Linked DNA regions of Homo sapiens. The protein of the gene in region 1 interacts with the protein of each later gene in a pairwise test. Each region holds a gene or a part of one and is shown in the gene's direction. Other genes may lie near its edges.

What was found.
Region 2: the proteins of NEK1 (region 1) and PPP2R5A interact in a two-hybrid assay, tested with the Homo sapiens proteins (one study listed by BioGRID).

The regions. Positions count from the first base shown.
Region 1 is NC_000004.12:169,476,544-169,480,374, reverse strand, and holds part of NEK1 (serine/threonine-protein kinase Nek1), read left to right. Parts: intron 1-840; coding exon 841-972; intron 973-1,994; coding exon of another isoform or gene 1,995-2,003; exon of another isoform or gene 2,004-2,851; intron 2,852-2,877; coding exon 2,878-2,943; intron 2,944-3,022; coding exon 3,023-3,251; intron 3,252-3,831. UniProt on the Homo sapiens protein: Phosphorylates serines and threonines, but also appears to possess tyrosine kinase activity. Involved in DNA damage checkpoint control and for proper DNA damage repair.
Region 2 is NC_000001.11:212,347,688-212,351,518, forward strand, and holds part of PPP2R5A (serine/threonine-protein phosphatase 2A 56 kDa regulatory subunit alpha isoform), read left to right. Parts: intron 1-701; coding exon 702-810; intron 811-1,501; coding exon 1,502-1,555; intron 1,556-3,831. UniProt on the Homo sapiens protein: The B regulatory subunit might modulate substrate selectivity and catalytic activity, and might also direct the localization of the catalytic enzyme to a particular subcellular compartment.

The DNA.
Region 1 (3,831 bases):
TTGCAATATTACCGTTATTGCAGTGGTCTGGAACCAAGTGCGTAATATCTCAGAGGTATGCCTGTATTGTTGTAAAGTGAAGGTCTAGAAGCCTAAATATTAAGATTGTATTATTACTGTATTTTTAGAAGATACTCAATAAATATTGTGTTTGAAATGTATACTCCCCAGAAAGTCTTGTTTCCTAGATTGAGGAAGACTAGGAATAGGGAGTAGGGAGTAAACTTCCTGCTGTGTTACTATTGTCATACCCATAAATGTCATTTCCTTGTATTAATTCAGGTTTCATAATCTTACTTTGTTTAGAGTTTAAATGGCAACATAAAAACAAGCACATATGTTAATACAACATGATGTTTTCAGTGAAGTAAATCTTATTACCTGGATCTGTTTCTCCTTCCATTCTCATTTATGTTGGCATTTTTATGAGGGCTCTTATGTTGAGTAATTGATATTTGAACTTTGAGAAGATTGTACCCAAACCTGCAGGAATTACAAAAGCATTTCTTTTAGAAGTGTAAGATTAACAAAATCTTACACTTGAATCTTTAAAAGACAGTTTTTCAGGATCATTTCATGAAACATTGATAATGCAATGAAAGCGGGTTATTTAGGACTATGTGACATGACTATGTGTACATCTGAGACCAGAGATTTTTTTCTCTAGTCACTGCTGTATCCCCAGCATGTAGCATCATAATGCCTTGCTCAACAGATAATTCAGGAATGAAAAAAACTACTTGTGGATAGAGTGGATAAATAGTGATCTGGTAGGTACCATTTTATTTCTTCATACAAATATAAAATCCCTAATGTATTTAATAAAATCCTTTTTTATAGTTGGTGGCTAAAGGAGTTAAGAGTTCTGATGTTTCTCCACCTTTGGGACAGCATGAAACAGGTGGCTCTCCATCAAAGCAACAGATGAGATCTGTTATTTCTGTAACTTCAGCTTTGAAAGAAGTTGGCGTGGTAAGTTTCCTAAGATTCAGAACTCCTCAAAGTCAAAAGATTATTTAAAAGGAAATTAAATTTAATGAAATCACATTAATCCCTAATGTCCCTTTCAGGTTTTTCTAAGGAAAAAAATTACTTTTTAAGGGATTTTAGTTTACTCAGAATACTGGAGCCTCATTGTTTATAAGTTTTATATCTAGGACCACGTGGTAGATGAAAATATATCACAATAACTCTTATATTACTTTAAAAGAATATTGAAAAAATAAAATATACAGAGAAATGTACTGAAAATAATACTATAAACATTTTTCTACCCAACCCTCATGATTAACAAATGTTCACTTTAAAAAGAATAATGTCTCTTTGGTGCTAAAGTAGCTCTAGGTATTAGGTCCAACACATATTTACATTTATTCAAATTTTGTGACATGGCAAATGTTAGAGGACTCAGTAGAACTAGTTAATTCATCAGTTATTCCTTTTACCTTCTACTTCTGAATCTCTGTCATGCCCTACAGATAGTAAAACAAAGAAACATAGACAAATAAAAAGCTTAAACTTAGAAGTATATTTCAGGTATCTGTCTGAAGTGTGAAGACTGTTCAGGGGTTAAGAGAAGTGGGCTCATAGTGTGGAGCTGCGGCCTAGAATTCAACAGACAGGAGGAGAAAAGTCTACTGAATCAGATAACATAATAACTTCATTTTCCCCTTTCCTGGTAATGGATGTCTGTGCTTTTTATTTGTTTAGTTTCAGTAAATATTTGCAGACAAAATTGGTACACTAGCTGTTTTTTTTTATAGCCTTTGGGTTGATTTTGAAAATAAAACTCAGTAGGAAAATATAAGTTTCTTGATCATTCTCAAGAACTTCATGTAAGAAACTATTGTTCTTCAAGTAGGCTTAGTCACTTTTTCTTTCTGATAACGACTTTGCGTGTGCCACGTTGTTACTCCAACTTTAGATACCACTGTGTGGTCCCTCCTTGGTACCCAGTCTCACATCTCAATAGCTGTTCATCTCTCTGGTTGTAGGACTGCTAATTCCTGACTACTTTACTGGGTAAAATGTTCTTTGTCTCATTGCTTCATATATTACTTTGAAACTGACCACCAAATTTTTAATTTTTTTTAAGTATTACAAAATTCGAGGTAATCCATATAACTGAACGGTTTTCTTTCTGTGTTGTGTTGGTAAATGTCACTTACTTAAAACTTAGAAAATTGTTCTTTGAATCTTCTACATGCCTTTGCTTTCATAGCTTTCGTAACTGCTAATTTCTTCTTTTCGTATGTTTTTTAATTTTAGATAGTCTGGATTGCTTTGACAATGCTAATTAGGAGATAACATTTATGTCATTTGTAGTACAAATGACTCAGAACTAATTTTTGTTACACTCTTTGTTTAGGGAGGAAAGCCACTTCTCAATTACATTTAGTACTATGGCTTAACAAGGATATATATACATGAAACATAAAGACAGTTTTAGAATAACACAGCCTATTTTGAATTACTTCATCTATCAAAACTTTTTCTAGTTATAATTAAGAGAGTATATGAATTTTCCTCTAATTTCTACTTTTTCCTCTAATTTCTACTTTTTCCTCTAATTTTCTGACTTAAATTACCAAAAAATCAGGTACCAAAGAGGAAGAGGATATAGTTAATTATGTGAGCAGTAATCTAAAAATATGACAAATAATTGAGAATTGGCCCCTGTCTATGTTGTCTAATTAATAATATTTAAAGGTTAGTCATTGCTGATAATGAAGGAAGCTTTGTTAACATTTTATAGGAATAAAAAATTTACAAGGAACAAATTAATGAAAACCAAAAAGTAACGAGGATGTAATATTTTTAAAGGTAGATTTAAAAAAATAAAATTATCTCTTCCTCTGTATCTATCTGCATTTAAAGGACAGTAGTTTAACTGATACCCGGGAAACTTCAGAAGAGATGCAAAAGACCAACAATGCTATTTCAGTAAGTAAAATTTTCAAAGTTTATCAATCATTTTACTTAATGATATACATATTAAAATATATAATGTCGTGACTTTCAGAGTAAGCGAGAAATACTTCGTAGATTAAATGAAAATCTTAAAGCTCAAGAAGATGAAAAAGGAAAGCAGAATCTCTCTGATACTTTTGAGATAAATGTTCATGAAGATGCCAAAGAGCATGAAAAAGAAAAATCAGTTTCATCTGATCGCAAGAAGTGGGAGGCAGGAGGTCAACTTGTGATTCCTCTGGATGAGTTAACACTAGATACATCCTTCTCTACAACTGAAAGTATGTATAGTAGTATATTAATATCCTATTTAGGTCTAGTACATATGTAAACTTATAGACTAACCACTCTGAAAAAAATGAACACTTAGAAGAATTGAGAGAAGCTGAAAGAATTCTATATATTTTCCTTTTGGGCGAATAGAAGTGCCTCCCTCTCACAGTGAAATGTGAAGAGCAGAGAAAACTAATCAAACTAATCAGCCTTAATAGCAAGGATTTTTATTACAAAAGTGTATAGTGTGAGAGAGGGAACTAATGATACATATTTAAATTGCATTACTTTAACTCTGTATACCATGTTAAATTAATCTGTTACTATGAATAATTCTTGATGAGAACCAGGGTAGTGTCTCAGAAACATCTCTTAGGCATTTAGCGAGAGTATTGAGAAAATCTGACTTAATGATTTATATATTCGGTGATAATTACTGAGAATCTATATTTCTTACATTGTTCTAGGAATTGGAGATATAGGAACAAAACAGAAACATATGTGCTCTTGTGGAGCTTACATTCTAGAAGGGCAAGTCTGACCATCAACAAATCTGATTTTAAGTAATTTTTTTCACAGACTGTTTTT
Region 2 (3,831 bases), on another chromosome or scaffold:
TGCCACCACACCCAACGAATTTTTTAATTTTTATTTTTAGTAGCGATGGGGTTTCACCGTGTTGGCCAGGCTGGTCTTGAACTCCTGACCTCAGGCAATCCACCCCCTTCGGCCTCCCACAGTGCTGGGATTACAGGCGTGAGCCACCATGCCCAGCCTCAGCTGAATTCTTATTACCTTTTGCCATAACACTTTGCCTTCCTTATTCACTACGTATTAGTATTAAGAGAATTTTAGACCCTTCTGTTACTATTTAGACAATGATTTTAGTTTCCTTTATTAATAGTAGAAAATGATTGTGGAGAGAACTACTTCTTTCACGTTATCCAACAAAGTAAGAAAAATTACCCATTTACTTCAGAAAAATATTGAACATTCTAACAATATTGTGGTACTGACTCTCCTGGAGCTTTGGGGGCAAAAATAAAAGCAACAATGCATAAAGTGACAGGTTTGATAGAAAATGAAGATAGAAATTACTTGGGAATTAATTGACAGTCCTAATTTTCTTTTGGAATCATCAAATGACTTAGAGGAACAGACTTCATAGTAATAGTCTTCCTAAAGTAGTTTGAAGATGAGCAGTCATACAACACCAGGATTGAAGCATAGCACTGTTCCTTATGTACTCATGGATATGACAGCTTTTAGAAACAAAGTAGTAACTACTTAACCCTTCCCCTGCCTTTTTTTCCCTCCAGTATTATCAATGGCTTTGCATTGCCACTGAAAGCAGAACATAAACAATTTCTAATGAAGGTTCTTATTCCTATGCATACTGCAAAAGGATTAGCTTTGTTTCATGCTCAGGTAAGTTTCAGAAACATTTCAGATGAAATGAATATTATTTCAAAGGCCAATATAAAGGCAGAGAAATTGAGAAATACTGAGATGACAGTTTTAAGTATAATTAAGCAATTTGCTTACAAAATTACCCAAAGCAAATTTTTCTTATTTTAAAGTATTTAGTTGTTAAGTAAGACCAATTATTTAATTTCTATATCTACACTTACAGTTTAAGATACACACTTTCCTCATATTATAGTCCAGGTCTTGACCTAATTATGTGACTTTGAATAAATCCCACATATCTACAGAATGTTTCTTCCAGCTGCAATAACCTAGACCTAGTTAGAGAGATTTTGGTCTCTTCTATTAATATTTAGAGAATAATATATCAGCATAGGTGTACATGTAGAAACATGCTGAAAAACTAAATTGTTAGCTCTAGTCTTATTTCAGTTAACTTTATAGTCAGAAATTACTACTAAAAATGTTTTTTAAACTTGAAGTTACTTTCAAGGCTAAAAAGTTACACAATTGTGAGTATAGTTTCACGATTGAGGTATTTCACAATTTCATTCACAGTTGTGAGTATATTTTTATATATTGGAATAATTTATCAAAATGAGGTAGTCTAAAAAATATTGGCTAAATATAAAAATCCTACATTATTAAATGTTATCTCACTAATATTTATAAACTGTCCCTTACCTTTTAGCTAGCATATTGTGTTGTACAGTTCCTGGAGAAAGATACAACACTAACAGAGCCAGTAAGTGTTCTATTTATTTTCATGTTTTTGGTCTGCATTAATAGCATTTCATTGTAGCTTTCGTTTTATAGCCTTTATAGTTATTAAGTAGAATAATGTACGTTAAGCTAAAATCATTTAGAAGAAGAAATGTGAGATTAATCTACATTAAAAGAAGGGGTTAGGAGGGGAGAGTTCTCGTGAGTTATGTCTTGAATAACCGAAATATAGACTACTATTAATATGTAGTAGTTAAGATGTACGATGATAGGATCAGATGACCACAGTGAAATTTTATATGCATACTGTCTTCACCAATAATCTTTTAAATCTTCATTCACCTTTTGGAATTAAAGCATACTTCGAGGGTCCCAAAACTACTACTCCCTTGAATTTTGTTTTGTTTTTAATAATAGAATTTTTGCCACTCATTAACAATAAACCACTTGATAGGGATAGAAAACATTTCCTTGCTTTTGGTGATTAAGATATAAGATGTAATCTTGGAATAAAAGTAGTTTATGAACCAGCAAGGCAACTTAGGCTTTGAATTCTACTGTTATTTGCCTCTAGAATGAAAATTCAGGAGAGAGTGAAAACATAATTAGTTATGAAAATTTACTGAGGATTCAAGAAAAACAAAAGATGAAGTAGGGTGAAACAGAAAAGTATAAAAGCATAGAAAACATTTTAACCTTGGTGAAGTAAGTATTTTGAGAGAATGCTTTCTAGGCATGTTCAGTCTAAATATTTACCTAGTATTAGGTTGGTACAAAAGTGATTGCGGCTTTTGCCATTACTTTTAATGGCAAAAACCACAATCACTTTAGCAGCAACCTAATAAATATTTAGTAAATAGCAAAGGGTTTGAAAAACTAAAATATATATGTATTTTTACTATATTATGAACCTTCTCAGGCTATCCGTAGGGATGCTTGAAAAAATCATATACTTAGTATTCTCCCTTTCACTTGAACTTTGTGTAATGGAACAAAAGACATTTTTCCACTCCTTAATTTTTATTAGTTTTTTGACTTTTAGATTTACAGTCTTTTCTAGAAACAGCTGTAAACAGTTTTTGAAGACAATTCAGGAGAATTAGAAACCATATATTTGTACATGAAACCACATAAACCTCTGAAGTTGATTCCCAGGTGTGCAGTGGCTCACAACTGTAATCCCAGCACTTTGGGAGGCTGAGGCAGGCAGATAACTTGAGGCCAGGAGTTTGAGACCAGCCTGGCCAACATGGTGAAACCCTGTCTCTAGTTAAAATACAAAAATTAGCTGGGCATGGTGGCACAGGCCTGTGGTCCCAGCTACTCAGATGGCAAGGGCACAAGAATTGCTTGAATCCAGGAGGCGTAGGTTGCAGTGATCTGAGCTCATACCAGTGCACTCCAGCCTGGGCAACAGAGTGAGACTCTGTCTTCAAAAAAAAAAAGAAAAAAGTAAAACCTTAATACAAATCTATGATAACTCCCATTAGAATTAAGAAAAAGAAAACCCATAATAACACATATTGAAAAGTCATGGTTCATGCTTGGTAAATAGTATACAAATAAAATTTTATTTAATTAATTTGGGGTGGATAAGGAAGACAGGTGATTTATTTTTAAAGAATGGAAGATAGAGGCTGGGCATGGTGGTTCATGCCTGTAATCCCAGCACTTTGGGAGGCCGAGGCAGGCGGATCACCTCAGGTCAGGAGTTCAAGATCAGCCTGATCAACATGGTGAAACCCCATTTCTACTTAAAAAAAAAAAAAAAAAATTAGCTGGGCATGGTGGCGTGTGCCTGTAATCTCAGCTACTAGGGAGGCCGAGGCACAAGAATCACTTGAACCCTGGAGGCGGAGGTTACAGTGAGCCGAGATGACACAAAAAAAAAAACAAAAAAACAAAAAACCTTGACGATTAGGGAGAGGGATGATGGCCAGTTATTCAGCTTTTATCTGGTTTGGCTGAGTTGGGTTAATGAAAATAGGAGCAGGATGAGGAGAGAGAGTAAGATAAATACCCAGGTTAAGAAAGGAAAATATTTTCCAACTCATAAAGATCTCTCGATATAGAGATCTTGCAATTTCTAACATAGGCCATTCCAGCACCAAAATTACGGCCATATTACTTGGGTTTAAGCCTTAATACTAATTTTCTGGAAAGCAGGCATTCCTATCAAAGCTTTCTACAAATTATAAGTAGCTCAGAGCTTTTGTTAGTTTATTACTCAAGCCTGTAATCCCAGCACTTTGGGAGGCTGAGGCAGGCAGATCACCTGAGATCAGGAGTTCAAGACCA